Linked DNA regions of Homo sapiens: all the other regions are linked to region 1. The links come from fine-mapping of genetic effects on gene expression. A gene starts in region 1. Each other region holds a variant in brackets. All regions are shown on one strand. Distances are from middle to middle. Region 1 holds the start of LAMB2 (laminin subunit beta 2). Region 2 overlaps NCKIPSD (NCK interacting protein with SH3 domain). Region 3 overlaps QRICH1 (glutamine rich 1).

Region 1 (8,143 bases):
AGGCACCCGCCACCACATCCAGCTAATTTTTGTTATTTTTAGTAGAGATGAGTTTTCACTACATTGGCCAGGCTGGTCTCAAACTCCTGACCTTGTAATCTGCCTGCCTTGGCCTCCCAAAGTGCTGGGATTACCCTTTTTTTATTATCATTTTATTTTTTATTTTTTTTAGAGACAGAGTCTCGCTCTGTCACCCAGGCTAGAGTGCAGTGGTGTGATCTTGGCTCACTGCAAGCTCCGCCTCCCGGGTTCAAGCAATTCTCCTGCCTCAGCCTCCTGAGTAGCTGGGAGTACAGGCACATGCCACCATGCCTGGCTAATTTTTTGTATTTTAGTAGAGATGGGTTTTCACCGTGTTGCTCAGGCTGGTCTCGAACTCCTGAGCTCAGGCAATCTGCCTGCTTCGGCCTCCCAAAGTGCTGGGATTACAGGCGTGAGCCACTGCGCCCGGCCAACAATTGCCTCTTGTAAGCCTCCAGCACACCACTGGATAGTTGTGTCTAAGGCAGGATCAGTGAGAGGCTAGGGTCAGGGTTTGTTGGCTCAGAGTTCAGGGTTCAGGCCTAAGATCCCTACCCTCTTCCCCACAGACAAAGGTGTGGACACCACAAGTGTGGAGCTGGCTGTCAGTGCCCCTTCCCCAAGGTGGGGGCAGTAGGCATTGCTCTTCTGCTGGGTCAGATCCAGGGTGCTCTCCCTGTACCGGATGCCATGGGCCAGAAGCTGCCCAAAGCTGAAGGCATCCTCCATCAGGCAGAGTGAACCAGGTGAAGGGCCAGGAGGCTGGAGGTGGAAGTCAGAGGGTGGCCAGAAAAGGGATGCCTAACTGAACACCTGTGTTCTTCAAGGAGGGTACAACCTGGGCCCAGCACCAAGCACTGGATGTTCAGGGGGTGCTGGCTGAGGGGGGAATGGAACTCATGCAGGGGCCGCAGAGCAAGGGCTACAGGAAGTGAAGCTGGCACTTGAAGGCCTGGAGGGCACTGTACAGGAGGTGATACCCTACTTGTACCCTCAGCTCCTTTACATCCCTTGTTCAATGACTGCTGTGATTTCCATTCTCCCTGAGATCCTTGACTCACTATGATACCACAGTGCTACCAAGTACCTTGACCGTGATAACACTCAGCCTAGTTGCTACTGTGCTGTGTCCTCTCTGTGACCCCCTAACCTTTGCCCCAGGTAGTAGGGCGCCTGGCCCAGATGGCACTGGCAGTTGAGGTGACCCCAGTCCCAGGGCGTCTGTCCAGTGTAGCTAAGGTGCTCAGGGCATGTTTTGTCCTGAGTCAGCAGCAGGCCCAGGAGGCAGAAGAATGGGCAGCATGAGTCGTAGGCAGGGCTGAGGGCCTGGGCAAGATGAAATGGGGAAGAGTGGGCACTGGGGTCTCAGGGACCCCTCTGGAACAGTGGAAAGTGGGGTTTGGGCTGGGGCTGGGCTATACTGGACTGAGGCGGGATCTCAGTTCTAAATTCTCCTTTTCTCCAGGAACCTTAGGCAGTAATATATTTGAGGCAATATATTCTGGGTGGGGTGGGGATTCAGGTCCAGCCCTGCCCTAGGAGTTGTAGGTGGCCCCTTTGGCTGTGGCCGAGCTGCAGGAGGACACATATGGCCTGGTAGCCACTGTGCAGGATGCAAAAGAATGGGTGCAGCAGGCTTGAGCTGAGGCCCAGGAGCTCCTGAAGAAGGCATAAAGCAGCTTCAGCTGCCTGCATGGTGCATGGCTGGCCTGCAATAGGGCAGGCACAGGGAACGGCTTAGGGTCAGATGGAAAGGTCAGGGCCAGAATAGGGATGTTGTGGAAGGGTTAAGGCTGGGTCCAGATCAGATCTTGACTCATGTAGGGATCAGGGCTAGGGTCAAGGTTTAGACCAGGGATCAAGTGTTGATTAGGTTCAGGGTTTATTTAAGGTTAGGGCTGGGTCAGGGTCAGGGTTGTGATAGAGACTGGGACCAGGATCAGAGGTTAGAGCCAGGGGTCAGAGCCTGGCTCAGATGACCTGACCCCAGGGTTGGAGTGCCGCCTGACACAGAATGCACAGGCACTGGGCAAGAAGGCAGCCACCCTGCAGGCCCTGGAGCAGCAGGCAGCTGAGCTGCTTGGGCACATGATGTGCTTTGCCACCAATAAGTATGCCACCTGCTAATTACTGTCTATGGAAGCCATTAAGAAGGACTGTGGGATCACCTGGGTAACTCAAAGTGGCCCTAGAGTGATCCAGGAATCTCCTGGCCTTGGGAGACCAAAGATCCTACTGAGTGCCCACTGACCCTGAGTGACCCCCCCATGTGGCCCCACGATGTCCCCCAGTGGCCCTCTGACCTTGAGAAAGCAGACAGATCATGTAACTCCCTGAGGCCATCTAGTGTCCCAGACCTTGATACACCTTTATCTCTGAGTGATCTAAAACTGTGAGACTACAGTGCTGGCATTCTCCACTCAAAATAAATAGATGGGGCCTGGCACTATTTACTGGCTCATGCCTGTAATCCCAGCGCTTTCGGAGGCAGAGGCGGGAGGATCACCTGAGATCAGGAGTTCAAGACCAGCCAAGCCAACATGGTGAAACCCCATGTCTACTAAAAATAGAAACATTAGCTGGGCGTGGTGGTGGGCGCCTGTAATCCTAGCTACTTGGGAAGCTGAGGCAGGAGAATCGCTTGAACCTGGGAGGCAGAGGTTGCAGTAAGCGGAGATCTCGCCACTGCACTCCAGCCTGGGTGACAGAGCGACACTCTGTCTCAAAAAAAAAAAAAAAATTAAAATTCTCAGTAATTTCTAGTATCCCTGATCCCCCAGGTTGACTACATGATCCTCAGGGTGACTGGAGACCTCTACTCCGGATATCCAGAATAACTCCCAGCGATGCCTAAAGTCCAACGGATTGACTGACCCCCACCCAACCCTCACCCAACCCCCACCCCCGCCGCCCCCATGCTCCTTTGTGAAGTGGGGTGATTCCCCTGAGGAACTATCATCAGCTTTCTTCCCTGGATGGCAGCTCAGGGCACTCCCTGCCGGGACTGTGGAGGCGGCAGGCCAGACCCAGCCCTAAAGACCGGAGGACCCCATGTTTCCCCCAGCTTCCCGTTCCCAGGGCCCTGGGTGGGGCGCGCCCCATATCCCCCACCCACTTTCCTCCTTCTCTCCCCCTCCACGCCGCCGCGCACATTCCAACCCCAGGCTCCTGCGATCCCGGCAGGCCAAAAAGTCTGGAGCGGATAAATAGCCACAAGATCCGGAGTCGCTCGCCGTAGCTCTGGTCCACCACCCAGAGCCTATTTCCATACAGGGAAACCCGCAGCACTTCTCGTGCCTACTTACCGTAGTGACTAGTGGGGGAGGCAGTGACCCCCCTGGAGCTGTGCTTCGGGCTGGGTGTGCACTTTCCCCATCTCTCCCCCAGCCCCATTCTGTCCAGTCCCTAGGACTACCCGAGAGCCCCCCACAGCCCTGAATAGGGGCATGTGTTGCTCCTGCTTGTGCCCTCCAGCCTCTCTGTTGATGCTGGAGCCCTGGGATCAAACGGCTGAGTTGATGGTAATTTCCACGGCGCCCATGACGCTGAGGGGAAAAGGCTACGGTCTCCTTGGTCCAGAGTTGGAGATCCCGAAGATCTCTCATTTGCTCCTGCCATGCCCCCAACTTCGTGAGCCCTCTTCCAAGGATAGTTTAAAGCACCAAACCCCTTACCTTCCCCTGGCCCTCGTATAGGTGTGGGCTTGGGGGCACAATAAAGATTTGTGGGTGAAGTGGTCTGTCTCTGGTTCCTGGGGCGAAGGCAGTTTCCGGAGGGAAGGGGTAGGGTTGGGGTGGGGGCGCTCTCCGCCCGGTGTTGCGCTCCTTCCCAGAATCCGCTCCGGCCTTTCCTTCCTGCCGCGATTCCCAACTTTGCTCAAAGTCGCTGGACTCTAAGCTGTCGGAGGGACCGCTGGACAGACCTGGGAACTGACAGAGGGCCTGGAGGGAAACAGGCCAAAGACCCACAGGCAGAGTTGACACGGAACCCCAAAGCAAGGAGGAGGGCTCGGGCCCGAGACCGTTCACCTCCCCTTATCCCTGTTCCCCTCTTCAGGATGGAGCTGACCTCAAGGGAAAGAGGGAGGGGACAGCCTCTGCCCTGGGAACTTCGACTGGGCCTACTGCTAAGCGGTGAGAGGGCCTGGTGGGGGCTGGGGGTTGTGGAATGTGATGGTAGGTCCTGGTAGTTGCCCTTGGGGCACATGAGGTGGAGCCACTGGATAGGAACTCAGCGGAACTGACTGAGCTACTGTCCCCAGTGCTGGCTGCCACACTGGCACAGGCCCCTGCCCCGGATGTGCCTGGCTGTTCCAGGGGAAGCTGCTACCCCGCCACGGGCGACCTGCTGGTGGGCCGAGCTGACAGACTGACTGCCTCATCCACTTGTGGCCTGAATGGCCCCCAGCCCTACTGCATCGTCAGTCACCTGCAGGTGTGGCTGGGGACAGGGTGTGACGCCGAGTCAGGGTGGGGCTGGCACTGCCTGAGGCACTGATTCTAATCCCCATCCAACCCAGGACGAAAAGAAGTGCTTCCTTTGTGACTCCCGGCGCCCCTTCTCTGCTAGAGACAACCCACACAGCCATCGCATCCAGAATGTAGTCACCAGCTTTGCACCACAGCGGCGGGCAGCCTGGTGGCAGTCAGAGAATGGTGAGGCCATGGGTGGGGCAAAAGTGAGCAGGGCTGCCCACCAGTAGCTTTGAGTCCTTGACTTCCGATTCCTGTCCCAGGTATCCCTGCGGTCACCATCCAGCTGGACCTGGAGGCTGAGTTTCATTTCACACACCTCATTATGACCTTCAAGGTGCCTGCATATCTGGGAGCCTGCCCGAATCACCCTGCTTGGCTCTCCATTGCCCCTGGACAGAGCCTCAGCTCCTTAACACAGCCTCCTTGAGCATGGATGCAGGAGGCTCCTTCATCCCTTCACACCTTCCATTTGCCTCCAGGCCTTTGCACATGCTCTTCTGCCTTTCCAATCCCAGGCTGGGTCAGGCGCTGTCTCCCTGAGCCCCATGAACCCTGAGTCTCCCCATTAGAGGTGGCTACCTTTGCTGGTCATTATCTGGCTTCCACCAGTCACCCCCACTCTCTGTGAGCTATTTGAGGGCAGTCTTGGGCTGAGCAGGGCTCTTGATGGCTCTGGGTTGGGCTTGGGTCCTGGTGCCTGCTGATCAGCTATGCCCCCCTACCCAGACATTTCGCCCTGCTGCCATGCTGGTGGAACGCTCAGCAGACTTTGGCCGCACCTGGCATGTGTACCGATATTTCTCCTATGACTGTGGGGCTGACTTCCCAGGAGTCCCACTAGCACCCCCACGGCACTGGGATGATGTAGTCTGTGAGTCCCGCTACTCAGAGATTGAGCCATCCACTGAAGGCGAGGTGAGGGCTGGCATCTGGGCTGGGGGCTGGAAGCTGGGGATGATGGGCCTGAGGCAAGGTCCAGTGTGACTATGAACTCCCTGCTTCTCCAGGTCATCTATCGTGTGCTGGACCCTGCCATCCCTATCCCAGACCCCTACAGCTCACGGATTCAGAGTGAGTGCTCCACCCTTTGAGTCTGGCACAGTCCGTGTCCGGCTAGGGACTATTTGGGGCCTCAGTAACTATTTTGGGTGCTTCCTAGGGCAGGTGCCAAGCCCAGTTTAGCTCGGGTGGCAGTGTATAGGAGGTCTTTCAAGGTGACCTTGGCAGCTGAGCCCCTGGGTGGACATGGGGCAGCAAGGGCCTGCCTGGTCAGTTGGCCCCCCTTCCCCCGCCTCAGACCTGTTGAAGATCACCAACCTACGGGTGAACCTGACTCGTCTACACACGTTGGGAGACAACCTACTCGACCCACGGAGGGAGATCCGAGAGAAGTACTACTATGCCCTCTATGAGCTGGTTGTACGTGGCAACTGCTTCTGCTACGGACACGCCTCAGAGTGTGCACCCGCCCCAGGGGCACCAGCCCATGCTGAGGGCATGGTAAGGGGCTTCAGACGGTTGGGATAGGGCTAGGGGCAGGGGCGGACATGGCTGAGCAGTGCTGACAACCTACCTGCCAACCTCTATAGGTGCACGGAGCTTGCATCTGCAAACACAACACACGTGGCCTCAACTGCGAGCAGTGTCAGGATTTCTATCGTGACCTGCCCTGGCGTCCGGCTGAGGACGGCCATAGTCATGCCTGTAGGAGTGAGTGAGATCTTGGCCTCCATAGCTCCAGCACTCTGCAGCCTGGCTGTGCCCTGGGTAGAACCTAGAGCTAGTTGGTCAAGCCCCTAAAACCCAGGCTGTATCCAAAGAGTATGCAGACCTTGATGCCCCTTGGGACCCCCTCAATCCTCCTCTGCAGTCTGCTCTGGGTAGGGAACCAGTATGATGCTGAGGCCTTGAAGTCCCTGAGCCCCTACCCACAAATTCTGGCCTGTGATAGGGATCTAAGGTGGCCTACTTCTTACCCTTGTGACCTGGTTCCTCATGTGGCCTTTGCCCTGCCCTTCCTCCCCTGCCAGAGTGTGAGTGCCATGGGCACACCCACAGCTGCCACTTCGACATGGCCGTATACCTGGCATCTGGCAATGTGAGTGGAGGTGTGTGTGATGGATGTCAGCATAACACAGCTGGGCGCCACTGTGAGCTCTGTCGGCCCTTCTTCTACCGTGACCCAACCAAGGACCTGCGGGATCCGGCTGTGTGCCGCTGTGAGGCTGGGATTGGGCACGGGGAGAGAAAGCTGAGCCTGGGGCAGGAACTAGAGAGCTGGACTGCTGTCTAAATTGCAGGAAATTGGGGTTAGGGGCTTGGGATAGAACTTGACCAGGGATCCAGGGTGGGATCCCTTAGGCTTAGGAGAGGACTGGCAGTGAGCTAGTTGAGATAGGGTGAGTGACCCTGTATCTCTTTTTGCCGTCAGCCTGTGATTGTGACCCCATGGGTTCTCAAGACGGTGGTCGCTGTGATTCCCATGATGACCCTGCACTGGGACTGGTCTCCGGCCAGTGTCGCTGCAAAGAACATGTGGTGGGCACTCGCTGCCAGCAATGCCGTGATGGCTTCTTTGGGCTCAGCATCAGTGACCGTCTGGGCTGCCGGCGTATGTGTCTCCTGCCCTAACTTCTATGCTGACCTTTAACCCCTGTCCTCTTACTCCTGACTCAGCTGAACATGAGCACTGCCACAGTTTCCCAAAGTGCTGATGGTTCTCCTTCCCTGCAGGATGTCAATGTAATGCACGGGGCACAGTGCCTGGGAGCACTCCTTGTGACCCCAACAGTGGATCCTGTTACTGCAAACGTCTAGTGACTGGACGTGGATGTGACCGCTGCCTGGTGCGACTGGAAGGGGCTGGAGTTCTAGGGGCATGATTTGTCCTTAGAGCACAGGGCTGGGGTGTCACATCTATGCCAGTGGGTGGGTGCTGAGAGCTTAGGATCCAGTCCTGGCTGAGAAGCCTCAGGTCTGGGAGGCCAAGGATGTGGGCCAGTGGTCTGGGGGGCATGTTTTCACTGAGGGGTGATTGAGGCTAAGACGTGTGGTTGGGATTTCCTGCTGGGTGGTGATGGGGTCTGGAGGTCTGTTTCTGGCCCCCAGCAACTCCTTTCGTGCAGCCTGGCCACTGGGGCCTGAGCCACGACCTGCTCGGCTGCCGCCCCTGTGACTGCGACGTGGGTGGTGCTTTGGATCCCCAGTAAGTGTTGTAAAGGGGGCCTGGGAAGGGATGGGGAAAGATCCTGAGCAGAAGAGAAGGTTCTTCTTGAGTAACCACAGAGTTCCCTCCAGGTGTGATGAGGGCACAGGTCAATGCCACTGCCGCCAGCACATGGTTGGGCGACGCTGTGAGCAGGTGCAACCTGGCTACTTCCGGCCCTTCCTGGACCACCTAATTTGGGAGGCTGAGGACACCCGAGGGCAGGTGTGGGGCCTCCCCCTAAGCAGAGGGCTGGATGTGGGTGGACACGTCTATGACTGGAGAGGTGGGGTTATGGGCAGTACCTTGTTGAGGGGATAGGGGTGATATCTAGCTTTGGCAGGAGAAATGGGGTTTGGGGCTGGCTGTGGCAGAAGAGGCAAAGCCTCACCTGAGCCTCCATCCCTGGCTGCATTATCTCCCAGGTGCTCGATGTGGTGGA
Region 2 (8,175 bases), 460 kb after region 1:
ACATGGCTCTGCATTTGTCTATAGCTTAGACGCTGGTGTTTGATGTGCAGGCACCTCAGTATGACTCCCAGGGCTGGGACTTAGCAGGGTGTGCTGCCTAAAGGAGGTTTTGGTATTATTTCTCTAATTAAAGGTAAAAAGAGAAATGAGGGATGTTGAGGGAAGCAGACATCAGGTCAGTGGACTGGGGGTCTCTGTGAGAACAAGCTGTCAAGTCATAAGGGCTGGCCGGGCGTGGTGGTTCACGCCTGTAATCCCAGCACTTTGGGAGGCCGAGGTGGGTGGATCACTTGAAGTCTGGAGTTTGAAACCAGCCTGGCCAACATGGCGAAACCCCGTCTCTTCTTAAAAAAAATACAAAAATTAGCCAGGCATTTTGGCACATGCCTGTAATCCCAGCTATTTGGGAGGCTGAGGCAGGAGAATCACTTGAATCCAGGAGTCAGAGGTTGCAGTGAGCCAAGATCATGCCACTGCACTCCAGCCTGGGTGACAGCACGAGACCCTGTCTCAAAAAAAAAAATGATATATATATATATATATCATATATATATATATATATGATATATATATATAGATCATAAGGGCTGTTGGAACTGGTTCAGCCAGAGGTGTTGGGAGTATAGGTTGGAGGAGAGGCTGTTGGAGATGAATTTGGGGCATATGTAGGAGGTAGGATGGCCAGGTCTTAGACATGGCTTGGATATGAGGTATGTGGGAGACAAGAAGCAAAGAGGACACCATATTTCAGGCCTGTGCTTTTGAATCGGCAACAGTGCTCTTTCTAAAGGTAAGAACATGAGAAAACCTTCAACTCTGGGAGGATGGGAAAGATCATGAGTTTGGTGGTAGATATGTGGATTTGAGGTCTGTCACATGTGCAGGAGATGTCAAGTGGGCAGTTGAATATTCTTGTCTGGAGCTCACAGGGGAGTTCTAGGTAAGAGGTATGAGAGTGGTTCACTATTTGAAGCTGTGAATGTGCACGAGGTCTTCCAGGGTAAGAGAGGATAGGGTGAGAAGCAGAGGGCCTCTGACTGATAGACAGAGGCACCTTGAGAGACCCAGCTTCAAAGGATGGGCAGGACTTCCCTGGGCAGGCCACATACTTGGGGCTGTCTGTGGCTGGGATGATTCGTTTATTCGCTTACTCAAAAACTATTGAAGACCAATTCTGTGCCAGGTATATTGTGGGTGCTGGGGATGCAGCCCTGATGTTCAGGTCCACAGCCCTGGGGTCTGTGGGACAGTGGGGTCCTGTCCCTGTCCAGTGGTGGTTGCAGTACCTCCCTGGGGTCCCTGAGCTGGCCTGCTCTTCCCACAGCTGCGCATGGAGTACCTCTCCCTGATGCATGCTATAGTCCGCACCACACCCTACCTGCAGCACCGCCACCGGCTACCCGACCTGCAGGCCATACTGCGACGCATCCTGAATGAGGAGGAGACCTCACCCCAGTGCCAGATGGACCGCATGATTGTCCGAGAGATGTGCAAGGAATTCCTGGTGCTGGGGGAGGCTCCCAGCTAGCACCTTGCTGTCCTCCCTTCCCTGCAGCTCCAGTCAGTGTGCAGGGGACTCAGGGGCTTGGCCCTAAGAATGTTTTGCACTGACAGTGGGAGGGGATAAGGTGGCAGAAGGAACCTGAGCAGGACCCCCACCTGAAGTAGAACTTAAGAGAGGGGCCAAGTGTAGGATTGGGGACCATGGTCTGGGAGCTGTTCTGGGGCAGGGGGAATATGCAAGCTAAAGCCCCTCTATACCCTGGTAGGCTTCCTCTTCAGCATGCCCCCCTCTTCACCCCACACCCATGTGTACACTCAGAGTCCTGCTGCCGCTCCAGGCTGGACCAGACCCCCATCCCCACCCCTCCTGGTCTGTATCCTGGGCCTCAGCAAGCCATGCCCCTGGGGTGAGGGGAGGCATCTCCCACCAGCTCTATTCTTTGCCTTAGCTTTGCAGTGAGTGCTGCTCATGTCCTCCCCTCCACCCGCACATGGGGGTCGCTGCCCTTCACTCCTACCCCCAGAGGCCTTGGCCAAGCTGCTGCTTTGAAAGCGGGATCTTGGAGACAGGCCATCCATCCTGGAGCCTCATGGAACAGGATGATGGCACTGAGAAAGCCAATGACCGAATCTCTTTTCTCTGTAAAAATGTAGACTGAAAAGCCATGTGTATTTTCCTATGTGCTGTAGCTCTCCTTTGGAAATAAATCACAGGCATCTGGAAACAGGCTTCCCTGTATGATCTTGGGAGACAGTGGGAGAGGATGGGCAGAAGTACTGGGGCCTCAGGACCCCATCACTGCAGCTTGCACTGACTTCTCCAGCCTGAGGAGGTGATGGACCCTGACAGGCCTGGCCTTCAAGGCCCTTTGAGCCCTGTTCTAGCCTCTCTTCCCTGAGCTCCACTTTTCCTGAGCCCCAGCCATAGCCAAGTGCCCCTCAGCAGCCCATTCGCAGGTGTCTGCATCTCCAGGCTTCACTTACACACTTACATCTTTCTTTTTCTCCTTTTTTTTTTTTTTGAGACAGTCTCACTCTGTTACCCAGGCTCACTGTAGCCTTGACCTCCCAGGCTCAAGTGATCCTCCTGCCTCAGCCTCCTGAGTAGCTGAAACTACAGTAGCCACCATGCCCAGCTAATTTAATTTTTTTTTTTTTTTTTGGTAGAGACAGGGTCCTACTATGTTGCTCAAGCAGGTCTCAAACACCTCAGTTCCGGTGATCCTCCTGCCTTGGCCTCCCAAAGTACGGGGATTATAGGCGTGACCCATCGCACCGGCCCGCTTACATCTTTCACTTACATCTTTTGCTTTGCTTTGAATACCGCTACTCTCTCCCCTGTTGAAACCCTATTGTCCTTCATAGTTGTTCTCAAATGAAGCAGGCCCCTACCTACCCCCAGCCCTGGCCTCTGAATGCTTGGGCCTGTCCAGCCCTATTTTCTTCCCCCATTTGTCCTTGTTTCCAGCAAGATCACCTCATCTTGCAACCTCAGCAGAGATCTGGTAATCATGGTAGGGCAGAAGGAGGGTCTTAACAAGCATGGGGTTACGTTTCCATTAGTGTTTTAGAGGAACTAAGGGCCAAAATTTGGCAAAAACTTCACTCTTGCAGACTCTCAAGTTAGCAAAGAAGTTCTCACCATAAGTTTGGGAGCAGAGTCAGAAACCCACAGGCAGACACCAGTCAGAAGTGTTGTTTCTGTTTTCTAGATTGAGTCTCACTATCTTTTCAAGGCTGATGTCCAACTCCTGTGCTCAAGCAGTCCTCCCACTTCAGCTTCCCGAGTAGCTGGGACTACAGGCACACACCACTATATAGGCTTCACACACAAGTGGTTTTCATCAGTTCCCTTTATTTTTTACCCAAACTCTTCATTCATCAGATGTTTCCACACATCAGCAATCACTGACACTGACTTCTGGTCATGACTTTTTCTTTCTTATTGGGGTGCTGAAAACAGAGGGCAGTTATCCTCCCAAAAAGAAGGTAAAGCAGCACAGGGAGGCAAGGGCTAGGGATGGGGCCCCCCAGCAAGAGGCTCTCAGAAGTTGAAGCAGCAACATTCCATAGGAAACCCATGGGAGGAAAGTATGGGGTCCTGGTGGGGGATGCCCTGCTCACCGCTTACTGTCAGAAGGCCAGGTGCACAAACTCACTGGGACCTGAGGAGGGGTTGACAGTGTTTGGCCCCCAGTAAAGCTCTGTGGGACACAACCTGGTTACTAACTTTTTTTTTTTTTCTTTTTGAGACGGAGTTTTGCTCTTGTCACCCAGGCTGGAATGCAATGGTGTGATCTCGGCTCACTGCAACCTCTACCTCCCAGGTTCAAGCGATGATTCCTCTGCCTCAGCTTCCCGAATAGCTGGGATTACAGGTGCCCACCACCACATCCAGCTAATTTTTGTATTTTTAGTAGAGACGGGGTTTCACCATGTTGGTCAGGCTGGTCTCGAACTCCTGATCTCAGACGATCCACCTGTCTCAGGCTCCCAAAGTGCTGGGATTACAGGTGTGAGCCACCGCGCCCAGCCCCCGCTTTTTTTTTTTTTTTTTTTTTTCAGATGGAATCGTGTTCTGTCACCCAGGCTGGAGTGCAGTGGTGTGATCTTGGCTCACTGCAACCCTTAACCTCCTGGGTTCAAGCAATTCTTCCTGCCTCAGCCTCCCCAGTAGCTGGTATTACAGGCGCCTGCCACCACACCCGGCTAATTCCTGTATTTTCAGTACAGATGGGATTTCGCCATGTTGGCCCGGCTGGTCTTGAACTCCTGACCTCAGGTGACCCACTCACCTCCGCCTCCCAAAATGCTGGGATTACACGCATAAGCCACCACGCCTGGCCTGGTTACTACTTTTAACCCTGGAGACATTCTGCCTCCTTTTCATATCCAAAGTCAATGACACTGACTTCCAGTCACAACTCCTTTCTCACTGGGGTGCGGAAGGCAGGGAAGTATTCTTATGAGATAGTGTATTTCAGTAAAAAGCACAGGTCCTCAGGAAGCTGAGGCAGGGACATCGGACAGCCTTTGTGACTTGCTGTGTTTCCTGTCATGATGCACACACAAACCCTGTGGGAACGGCAGGACTGTGCTGTGCCATCTGTCCCAGTGCTGGCACCTAGGTCAAACAAGGTATGGCCCCATGGCAGAAGCCTCTGCTCACTTCTGCAGGAGTGCCCAAGGTGGGCCCTGGCACCTGTTTGTAAGAGAAGCAGAAGCCCCAGCTGATGAAGTTACATACATGCTGACTCCTGGTAGCAAGCGTGCTCTGAGGGGACTCCAGGACCTCTTCAGCAAACACCCTTGTGGTGGCCTCACAACACAAAATTACAACCAAAGGCAGATTATGATTAGTCAGAGAAGTCCTCTTGGGGAGGGAACTGTCTTTGATAGAACACGTCTATGGCTGCGTGGAAGGTTGGTAGATGTGATATGTGGGTAGGCAGTAGGAAGGGCAATGAGACAGAGCATTAAGCCACCCCAAGAAAGGGGAGTGTTTGGGTAGAGTTGAGAAGAACTCAAATTTTGGG[G/T]GACAGTGAGGGGGTTTGGGCTGACTTCCTGGGTCAGAAGTTTCTGAAGCTGCAGCTAGGAATGGGTGTGTAAGTGTGCAGGTGGCTCACACCTGTAATCCTAGCACTTTGGGAGGCCGTAGAGGGAAAATCGCTTGAGCCCAGGAGTTTGAGACCAACCTGGACAGCATAGGAAGACCCCATCCCTACAAAAAATACAAAAATTAGCTGGGCGTGGTGGCCCACACCTGTAGTCCTAGCTACTCGGGAGGCTGAGGTGGAAGAATCACTTATGCTCAGGAGCAATTGCACCACTGCACTCCAGCCTGGGTGAGAGTGAGACCCCAACTCAAAAAAAAAAAAAAAAGTGCTGGCACCGTGTCTTTGGCATATGTGCTGAGCCATAAGCTGCACATGCATAAGGCCAACCCCAGGATGAGGGGTCAAGTAATTCTGTCTCAGCCTCCTGAGTAGCTGGGATTACAGGCGTGCGCCACCACACCCAGCTAATTTTTGTATTTTTAGTAGAGACAAGGTTTCTCCTTGTTGGCCAGGCTGGTCTTAAACTCCTGACTTCGGGTGATCCACCCTCCTTGGCCTCCCAAAGTGCTGGGATTACAGGCATGAGCCACCACACCCAGCGTATCCATCCACTGTTGATGACCTTTCAGTTGTTTCCAATTTTTGTCTGTTGCAAATACTGCTGCCAGGAGCACTGTTGTACATGTCTTCATGTTGCTCATACGCATTATTTTAGGAGGGTATATTCCCAAATAAAGAGTGGAATTTCACGGTCACAGGCAGATACTGCCAAATAGGTTTCCAAAGTAGTTGTACCAATGTATGCTCCTTCAGTAGTGTCAGACAGTTCAAGCTTCTATCTTTCCCAAAACTTGGTATTGTCAAGTCATTTTTATTTTCGCTATCCTGGTAGAGTGCAGTAGTCCTCCCCTCTCCACCTTTTTTTTGGGAGGTAAAGTCTTGTTCTGTTGCCCAGGATGGAGTCCAGTGGTGCATTCTCAGCTCACTGCATCCTCCTCCTCCTGGGTTCAAGCGATTCTCATGCCTCAGCCTCCCAAGTAGCTGGGACCACAGGCGTGGGCCAACATGCCCGGCTAACTTTTGTGCTTTGAGTAAAGACAGGGTTTTGCCATGCTGGCCAGGCTGGTCTCAAACTCCTGGCCTCAAGTGATCTGTCCATCTCAGCCTCCCAAGGTGCTGGGATTACAGATGTGAGTCGCCTCACCTAGCCAGTATTTATTTTTTTCAATTTGCATTTCCCTGATGACTAAAGAGGTTGAGCACCTTTTCAATATTATTTGAATGTTCTCTTTTGTGAAGTAACTATTCGAATCTCTTGCCCCATTTATCTGTTTGTGTATATTTTATTGATTTGTAGTATGTATTCAGGATATGAGTCCATGGATGTTCTATCTTAGAGTATCTTCTCCCACTTTTAATGTCTTTTGATAAAAGAAGGTTCTCAATCATTATGTAATCCAATTTATCAATACTTTCCTTTATAGTTAGTGTATTTTATGTCCTATTAGACAATCCTGTTAGACAGTCCTGTCCTGTTAAAAAATCTTGACTGGCTGTGGTGGCTCATGCCTGTAATCCCAGCACTTTGGGAGGCCAAGGCAGGAGGATCACTTGAGCTCAAGAGTTCCAGACCAGCCTGGGCAAAATGATGAGACCCTGTCCCTACAAAAAAGTAAAGAAATTAGCCGGGTGTGGTGGAGCATACCTGTAGTCTCAGCTACTCAGAGGCCAAGACAGGAGGGTCCCTTGAGCCTAGGAAGTCGAGGCAGCAGGGAGCTATGATCGCGCCACTGCACTGCAGGCTGGGCCACAAAGTGAGACCCCCATCTCTAAAAACTTTTTTAATATAAAAACAAATTTTTTAATCTTTGCTTTCACGCTTGTGAACAGCCACTGCACTCCAGCTCCCGTCTCTGTAAAAAAAAAAAAAAAAAAGTTTGCTTAAAGTCACCTTTAAGATCTTCTCTTGGCCAGGTGCAGTGGCTCACGCCTGTAATCCCAGCACTTTGGGAGGCCGAGGTGGGCGGATTACAGGGTCAGGAGATCGAGACCATCCTGGCCAACATGGTGAAACCCCCATCTCTACTAAAAATACAAAAATTAGCTGGGCGTGGTGGCATGTGCCTGTAATCGCAGCTACTCGGGAGGCTGAGGCAGGAGAATTGCTTGAACTAGGGAGTCAGAGGTTGCAGTGAGCCAAGGTTGCACCACTGTATTCCAGCCTGGCGACAGAGCGAGACTCTGTCTCAAAAAACAAAAAACAAAACAAAAAACAACAACAACAAAAAACAAAACAAGGTCTTAATACTGTTTTCTAGAAACTGTATATTTTCAGATGTCAAATTTATATGGAATTGATTATGCAAGCAGTGTGAAATAGAGATCTCATTTAATTTTTTCTATATGGATATCCAACTGACCCAGCATCATTTATTGAAAAGCCTATTCTTTCAGTTAATAGAGTTGCTCCTGGGGAAACAAAAAAAAGAAAACAACCCTTTCTTCATGTTAGCTCTGAAGAACCACCCTTGTCAAAATTCAAGTTTCCACACATCTTCAGGCCTGTCTCTGGATTTCGTTCCTTTAGTCTTCCTATCCTCGTACCAGTACCACACAATCTTGGTTTCTTTTTATTTTTTAATTTTCATTCTTTTTTTAGATACAGGGTCTCTTGCTCTGTTGCCCAGGCTAGAGTGCAGCATGTGATCATAGCTCACTACAGCCTCGACCTCCCCAGAGCTCACATGATCCTCCCACTTCAGCCTCCCAAGTAGCTGGGACTATACAGGCATGTGCAAAATTTTTGTATTTTTTGTAGAGATGGGGTTTTGCTGTGTTGCTCAGGCTGCTAAATCTAGTTTGTCAGTTTACACACACACAAAATCTAGTGGGATTTTTTTTTTTTTTTTTTTGAGACAGAGTCTTGCTCTGTCGCCCAGGCTGGAGTGCAGTGGCGTCAACTTGGCTCACTGCAAGCTCCGCCTCCCCAGGTTCACGCCATTCTGTCTCAGCCTCCCAAGTAGCTGGGACTACAGGTGCCCGCCACCACACCCGGCTAACTTTTGTATTTTTAGTAGAGACGGTTTCACCATGTTAGCCAAGATGGTCTCGATCT
Region 3 (8,175 bases), 60 kb after region 1:
TTTTCAAAGTTAATGTGGACTAAAAGTTTTTTCTTTCTTCTCCTTTTTCTTTAAGCTTTTTTTTTTTTTTAAACAAACCCCAGTGTCAAGGACTGACTTTGAATAGATTGCAGCCAGGGATCTGCTTAGCTACCTAGGAAACCCCAACCCAGAAGCGGGTCATCTATGATTGGTTTAGCATCAGGTTCAACGTGACTTGCGTGATGAGTGAGGGGGCGCCACCTTTCTGGCAGCACCTTTTCCCAGGATGAGGGGCTCTCCACACCGGAACCCGGTCCCGGCACGTGACCCCGCCGGCGGCGATGTCAGTGATGGTGGGGGACTGGCTTTCCGAGGCTGACCAACACTGTGGTGCTGCCATGTCATTGTACTTGGGTTGTTTTCTTTGTTTGTTTCTTCTTTTTTTGAGATGGAGTCTTGCACTGTGGTCCAGGATGGATTCTCCTGCCCCAGCCTCCTGAGTAGCTGGGATTCCAGGTGCCTGCCAACACACTCGGCTAATTTTTTATACTTTTAATAGAGACGGGGTTTCACTATGTTGGCCAGGCTGGTCTTGAACTCCTGACCTCATGATCCACCTGCCTCCTTATCCAAAAGTGCTGGGATTACAGGCATGAGCCACCGCACCCGGCCACACCTGGGTTGTTTTTTTCTTTTCTTTTTTGAGACAGAGTCTCATTCTGTCACCCAGGCTGGAGTGCAGTGGTGCATTCTTGCCTCTGTCCCCCGGGTTCAAGCTATTCTCATGCCTCAGACTCCTGAGTAGCTGGGACTACAGGTGTGCACTACCACCCTCAGCAATTTTTGTTGTATTTTTAATACAGACTGGGTTTCCCCATGTTGGGCTTGAACTCCAGACCTCAAGAGATCTGCGTGCCTTGGCCTCCCAAAGTGCCAAAGTGCTGGGATTACTGGTGTGAGCCACCATGCCCAGCCTTTTTTTTGTTTGTTTGTTTTTTCTTTGAGTTGGAGTTTCGCTCTTGTTGTCCAGGCTAGAATGCAATGGAGCCATCTCGGCTCACTGCAACCTGCACCTCTTGGGTTCAAGCGATTCTCCTACCTCAGCTTCCTGAGTAGCTGGGATTGCAAGCATGTGCTACCACGCCCGGCTAATTTTTGTATTTTTAGTAGAGACTGGGTTTCACCTTGTTGGCCAGGCTGGTCTCGAACTTCTGACCTCAGGTAATCTGCCCTTCTCGGGCTCCCAAAGTGCTAGGATTACAGGCATGAGCCACGGCGCCTGACTTTTTTTTTTTTTTTTTTTGAGGGACAGGGTCTTGCTCTGTCACCTAGGCTGGAGTGCAGTGGCACGATCACTCCTCACTGCAGCTTTGACCTCCAAGGCTTAAGCGATCATCCAGCCTCAACCTCCAAGTAGCTGGGACCACAGGCATGTACCACCACGTGCAGCTAATTAATTAATTTTTTTTTTTTTTGTAGAGATATAGTCTCCCTATGTTGCCCAGGCTGGTCTTGAACTCTTGGCCTCAAGATATTCTCCTGCCTTGGCCTCCCAAAGAGCTGAGATTACAAATATGAGCTGCCATGCCTGGCCTTAAAAATATTTTCGAGTACTGTAAACTAAAAACACCACAGATATTTGGTCTTTTTTATTTAAGATGGAGTCTCGCTCTGTTGCCCAGGCTGGACTGCAGTGGTGCAATCTCAGCTCACTGCAAGCTCTGCCTCCCAGGTTCACGCCATTCTCCTGCCTCAGCCTCCCAGGTAGCTGGGACTACAGGCAGCTGCCACCACGCCCAGCTAATTTTTTTGTGTTTTTAGTAGAGACGGGGTTTCACCATGTTAGCCAGGATGGTCTCGATCTCCTGACCTCGTGATCCACCTGCCTCGGCCTCCCAAAGTGCTGGGATTACAGGCATGAGCCACTGCGCCTGGCCCAAATATTTGATCTTTGCTGTGGAGAGCTGAATAGTTTTGAAATTAGAGATCTTTTGGTACTGGGTTTAGGTGTGATAGCTTCATATGACTGAGGCTTCCTTTCTTTTCTTTTGTATTTTTTCCTGAGATGGAGTCTCGCTCTGTCCCCCAGGCTGGAGTGCAGTGGTGTGACCTTGGCTCTCTGCAAGCTCCGCCTCCCGGGTTCACGCCATTCTCCTGCCTCAGCCTCCCGAGTAGCTGGGACTACAGGCGCCAGCCACCATGCCTGGCTAATTTTTTGTATTTTAAGTAGAGACGGGGTTTCACCATGTTAGCCAGCATGGTCTCGATCTCCTGACCTCATGATCCGCCCACCTCGGCCTCCCAAAATGCTGGGATTACAGGTGTGAGCCACCACGTCCATCTGAGGCTTCCTTTCTATTTGTGTCATCCTGAATAGAGACAGAACACAGGAGGGCTGGTCTTGGCTGATTACTGATAGTGTAACATTTGAAATTAATTTAAAAATGGAAAGGCTGATGTATTTCAGTGATCTTCATTAACTTGTGTGATTCCATAACTCAGATTACGTATGGATTTCTGGGTCTGTGTTTGTTGTTTCTAAACCACAAAACGGCTAAGTGCATTTGTGAATGCCTGTAATCCCAGCACTTTGGGATGCCAAGGTGGACGGATCATTGAGTCCAGAAGTTTGAGGCCAGCCTGGGCAACATGGCAAAACCCCGTCTCTACAAAAAATAAAAAAAAATTACCCAGGGATGGTATGTACTTGTAGTCCCAGCTATTTGGGAAGCTGAGGTGGGAGGATTGCTTGAGCCCAGGAGGTTAAAACCAGCCTGGGCAACATGGTGAAACCCTGTTTCTACCAAAAATAAGAAAAAATTAGCTGGGTGTGGTGATGCACGCCTATGGTCTTAGCTACTAGGGAGGCCGAGATGGGAGAATCGCTTGAGCCTGGGAGGTGGAGGTTACAGTGAGCTGAGATCGTGCCACTGCACTCCAGCCTGGGTGACAGAGTGAGATCCCATCTCAAAAAAAATAAAAATAAAAATTGTAAGGCACAAAAAAATAATGCTAATTGATGATAAACTTTCTGAAAGACGAGAAACTAGTACATTTGTTGAGAAGGTAAAATGTTTTCCTTTTTTTTTTTTTCGAGATGGAGTCCCACTGTGTCACCCAGGCTGGAGAGCAGTGGCGTGATCTCAGCTCACTGCAACCTCTGCCTCCTGGGTTCAAACGATTCTCCTGCCTCAACCTCCTGAGTAGGTGGGATTCCAGGCACCTGCCACTGTGCCGGCTAATTTTTGTATTTTTAGTAGAGACAGGGTTTCACCATGTTGGTCAGGCTGGTCTTGAACTTCTGATCTCAGGTGATCCACCGGCCTTGGCCTCCAAAGTACAGGTGTGATCCACCGTGCCTGGCCAAAGTTTTCCTCTTTAGAGGTCTTTATGTGAGATAACAGGCTCCTCTAGTTGCAAATGCAGTTTTCTTGCCATTGTCTATTATGGTTTAATTTCATTGTATTCTGGAAGTCTTTTTATACTAAGAGGATAGGAAAGGGACTGAAACATGCTGGAGAGGCAGGAGTATGGAGAGGTGTGCCTGGTGAGATAGAAGGTTTCCCTTTCCTTCATTTTTTCTGTTTTTTTTTTAAGAGACAGGATTTCACTTGCCCAGGCTGGAGTGCTGTGACATGATCATGGCTCACTGCAGCCTCTACCTCCTGGGCTCAGGTGATGCTCTCACCTCAGCCTCCCGAGTAGCTAGGACTACAGGTGCGTGCCACCATGCCCAGCTAATTTTTTCATTTTTGGTAGAGATGGACTCTCGCCATGTTGCTCAGGCTGGTGTTGAACTCCTGGCCTCCAGCAGTCCTCATGGCTCAGCCTCCCAAAGTGCTGGGATTATAGGCATGAGCCACTGTTCCCAGCTGAAGTAGGTTTCACTGTAGCTCCTCAAAAATGCAGACGAGTATATTGGAAGGACATAGCCTCTGAAGCTTCAGTACTGGGTTTAAATTTGACTTGACCACTCAATTGTTGGCATGAGCTTATTAATCTTTACCTCCAGTTTGTTCATCAGTTAAATAAGGATAATACCATTTAATGAGACTGAATAAGATAATAAAGTATCTGGCATATGGAGAGTTTTTTTTTTTTT[G/TG]TAATGGAGACAGGGTCTCATTCTGTCACCTAGGTTGGAGTGCAGCGGTATGATCTTGGCTCACTGCAACCCCAGCCTCCCAGGCTCAAGCAATCCTCCCACCTCAGCCTCCCGAGTACATGGGACCACAGGCGCACACCACCAACACCTGCCTAATTTTTTGTATTTTTGATAGAGCCAGAATTTCACCATGTTGCCCAGGCTGAGATTTACTCATTTTTTATCTTTATATTTATTTACTTACTTTTTGAGACAGAGCCTCACTCTGTTGCCCAGACTAGAGTGCAGTGGCATTATTTTGGCTCACTGCAACCTCCATCTCTGGGGTTCAAGCTAGCACGCCCGACTAATTTTTATATTTTTAGTAGAGATGGGGTTTCACCATGTTGGCTAGGGTGGTCTTGAACTCCTGACTTTAAGTGATCTGCCAACCTCGGCCTCCCAAAGTGCTGGGATTGTAGGCATGAGCCACCACGCCCAGCCTTGTTTTGTCTTTGTAAGGAAGAAAAGGTACAGGAAAGGTTAAGTAAAAGAAGGCTGGCCCAGGCATGGTGGCTCACACCTGTAATCCCAGCACTTTGGGAGGCTGAGGTGAGTGGATTCCTTGAGCCTAGGAGTTTGAGACCAGCCTGGGCAACATGGCGAAATCCTGTCTGTACAAAAGTACAAAAATTAACTGGGTATGGTGGCTTGCTTGTGTGATCCCAGGTACTGGGGAGGCTGAAGTGGGAGGATCACCTGAACCTGGGAGGTCATGGTTGCAGCGAGCTGTGATTGTGCCACTGCACTCTAGCCTTTTACACTAAGGACAGGAAAGGTGTCTCAAAAAAAGAGAAAAGAAGTCTGATTTTCTGGCTCAAATTATTCTGCTGTTTTTTACAGCTTTGACCTCCTCTTCCTTACCACGCCTGGCCAATTTTTGTACTTTTTTCAGTAGAGGTGGGGTTTCATTCACCATGTTGGACAGACTGGTCTTGAACTCCTGACCTTAAACGATTCACTTGCCTCAGCCTCCCAAAGTGCAGGCATGAGCCATTGCACCTGGCCCCTAGGCTGGTCTTGGGACTCCTGAGTTCAGCTGAGCCACCCACTTTGTGGGTGTTTGGATTACAAATACAAAGTGTTTGGATTACAGGCACAAGCCATTACACCTGGCCCCGCTTTCTCATAAGATTAAAGAGTTTGGGGCTGGGTGCGGTGGTTCATGCCTGTAATCCCAGCACTTTGGGAGGCCGATCAGGAGATTGAGACCATCCTGGCTAACACAGTGAAACTCCGTCTCTACTAAAAATACAAAAAATTAGCCAGGCCTGGTGGCGGGTGCCTGTAGTCCCAGCTACTCGGGAGGCTGAGGCAGGAGAATGACGTGAACCCGGGAGGTGGAGCTTGCAGAGAGCCAGGGTCACACCACTGCACTCCAGCCTGGGCGATAGAGCAAGAGTCTGTCTCAAAAAAAAAAAAAAGTTTGGGGATTTAAGTTTGGAGTGTTTTTTGAGACTTTATGTTCAAGATAAACTGATGAATGCTTGAACTTGGAAGGTAGAGGTTGCAGTGAATCAAGATCACACCACTGCACCACAGCCTGGGTGACAGAGCAGACTCTGTCTCAGAAGAAAGAAAAGCCACTGACCGAGATCACTATTAACGTTCGTCTTTCTCCCTAAACTCTATGTAAATGAAAGAAGAAACAAATATAATGACATCCATGAGATAGATTCAGTGTGATAGAATCATAAGAATGTATGTTTTCCCTAAGTGACTAAAAAGATACTTTTAAAAAATAAAGAATTCTGGCCAGGCCAGGCATGGTGGCTCACACTTGTAATCCCAGCTGTTTGGGAAGCTGAAGTATGTAGATGACTTGAGCCCAGGAGTTTGAGACCAGGCTGGGAAACATGGTAAAACCTCATCTCTACAGAAAAACACAAAAATTAGTTTGGCATGGTGGTGTGCACTTGTAGTCCCAGCTACTCAGAAGGCTGAGGAACTCCTTGGGCCCAGGAGTTCGAAGTTGCAGTGAGCTGTGATCACGCCACTGCACTCCATCCTGGGCAAAAGTGCAAGACCCTGTCTCTATAAAAAACAGAACAACAAAGCATTTTTAAGAGTGTTGGAAAAAATGAATACCATTTAAAAACCACTAAATCTAAGAAATTGATAAAAGAGAATAAGTAGACAGAATTAGGTGATGAAAGGCCAGGCGTGGTGGCTCATGCTTGTAATCCCAGCACCTTGGGAGGCTGAGGCAGGCGGATCACCTGAGGTCAGGAGTTTGAGACCAGCCTGGCCAACATGGTGAAACCTCATCTCTGCTAAAAAATACAAAAATCAGCCGGGCATGTTGGCAGGTGCCTATAGTCCCAGCTATTCGGAGGCTAAGGCAGGAGAATTGCTTGAACCTGGGAAGCCAAGGTTGCAGTGAGCTGAGATCGTACCATTGCACTCCAGACTGGGCAATGTGAGCGAAACTCTGTCTCCAAAAAAAAAAAAAAATTTGGTGACAAATGCGTGTAGGAAAGAACTTTTGGGGAAAGTGGGGCAGTTCTTAGAGTGCCCTAAGCTGAGAAGTAGAGGATACACAGAGTAGAGGTCCACTGGGGTAGCTTTAGAACTAAAGGTTGGGAATTGACTAGAGACTTCAAAACACACACATACACATATGTATACTTACAGCTCACATTACCTTGATGAGCAAGTTAGAGATACATTAGTTTGATGATAATTGTTACTGCTCTTTTGAGTAAGAATCATAGGCTGGGTGCAGTGGCTCATACCTGTAATCTCAGTACTTTGGGAGGCTGAGGCAGGAGGATCCTTTGAGTTCAGGAATTCAAGACCAGCCTGGGCAACATAGTGAGACTTTGTCTGTACTAAAAATAAAATTAGCCAGATGTAGTGGTACACACCTGTAATCCCAGCTACTGAAGAGGCTGAGGTGGAAGGATCGCTTGAGAATACTTTATCTCAAAAAAAAAAAAAAAAAAAAAATTCCCCCCCATGGATCTGTATTTTCGCCAGCCTTTTAGAGTGCTCTTTGTGGTCCCCTCGCCCACACAGATTATCAACTATTAATGCAAGTTATAAGTGTAATTGGAGGAAACGTCCTTTTTTTCTGTAAAAAATAATTTTCAGCTGTGTGTGGTGGCTCATGCCTCTAATCCCAGCACTTTGGGAGGACAAGGCGGGTGGATCACGAGGTCAGGAGTTCAAGATCAGCCTGGCCAAGATGGTGAAACCCCGTCTCTACTAAAAATACAAAAAAGTAGCCAGGTGTGGTGGTGGGCACCTGTAATCCCAGCTACTCGGGAGGCTGAGGCAGAGAATTGCTTGAACCCGGGAGGCGGAGGTTGCTGTGAGCCAAGATTGCGCCACTGCACTCCAGCCTGGGCGACAGAACAAGACTATCTCAAAAAAAAAAAAAAAATAATAATAATAATAATAATAATAAATTTTCTACTTGAGGCTTTTTTGCCTTATTCAAGTAGTTCTAAAAGTCTTATCACAAATTTCTAACCTACAGGATGCTAGAGAGATGGTTTGTGCTATATGATACCTGCAAGAGTAGTTTTATTCCTTTCTACTTTAAATTTTAGCCAAGTTTGGCCGGGTGTGGTTGCTCATGCCTGTAATCCCAGCATTTTGGGAGGCCAAGGTGAGTGGATTGCTTGAGCTCAGGAGTTCTAGACCAGCCTAGGCAACATGGCAAAACTCCCATCTCTACCAAAAATACAAAAAATTGGCCAGGCATGGTGGTGCATGACTGTGATCCCAGCTACTCAGGAGGCTGAGGCTGGAGGATCACTTGAGCCCAGGAAGCGGAGGTTGCAGTGAGCCGAGATCGTGCCACTGCACTCTAGCCTGGGCAATAGAGCACAGACCCCATCACAAAAAAAAAAAGAAAGAAATTTTAGCCAAGCTTGGCTCTGTCATCCATGCTGGAGTGCAGTGGCATGATCACGGCTCGCTGCAGTCTGGACTTCCTGGGCTCAAGTGATCCTCCTGCTTCAGTCTCCTGAGTAGCTTGGACTACAGCTACTACGCCCAACTAATTTTTTTTTTTTTTTTAATTTTTTTGAGACGGAGTCCTGCTCTGTCACCCAGGCTGGAATGCA

The links.
Region 2: its variant is fine-mapped to the expression of LAMB2 in whole blood (INTERVAL, PIP above 0.99).
Region 3: its variant is fine-mapped to the expression of LAMB2 in whole blood (INTERVAL, PIP above 0.99).

What each region holds. Positions count from the first base shown.
Region 1 is chr3:49,128,803-49,136,945 of GRCh38, reverse strand. LAMB2 (laminin subunit beta 2) reads left to right here and starts at 3,896. Exons shown (of 32, transcript NM_002292.4): 1 at 3,896-4,154; 2 at 4,283-4,455; 3 at 4,541-4,676; 4 at 4,757-4,830; 5 at 5,223-5,411; 6 at 5,504-5,567; 7 at 5,794-5,996; 8 at 6,086-6,206; 9 at 6,527-6,715; 10 at 6,928-7,107; 11 at 7,230-7,342; 12 at 7,622-7,701; 13 at 7,794-7,926; 14 at 8,127-8,143. The coding sequence starts at 4,079. LOC124909377 (a long non-coding RNA gene) reads right to left here and starts at 4,078. Exons shown (of 2, transcript XR_007095905.1): 1 at 3,327-4,078. RefSeq lists a silencer at 416-710, a cis regulatory region at 2,243-2,456 and enhancers at 2,990-3,805, 4,623-5,438, 7,967-8,143.
Region 2 is chr3:48,667,897-48,676,071 of GRCh38, reverse strand. It overlaps NCKIPSD (NCK interacting protein with SH3 domain), which reads left to right. Exons shown (of 13, transcript NM_016453.4): 13 at 1,325-2,228. The coding sequence ends at 1,528. It overlaps LINC02585 (long intergenic non-protein coding RNA 2585), which reads right to left. Exons shown (of 3, transcript NR_111921.1): 3 at 6,898-6,973. Among named protein-coding and RNA genes, the nearest start is that of LINC02585, 8.2 kb to the right of the region's middle. The variant G/T (reference allele first, on the strand shown) is at 5,040.
Region 3 is chr3:49,068,420-49,076,594 of GRCh38, reverse strand. The region is part of intron 2 of QRICH1 (glutamine rich 1); the gene reads left to right. Among named protein-coding and RNA genes, the nearest start is that of QRICH1, 22 kb to the left of the region's middle. The variant G/TG (reference allele first, on the strand shown) is at 4,064.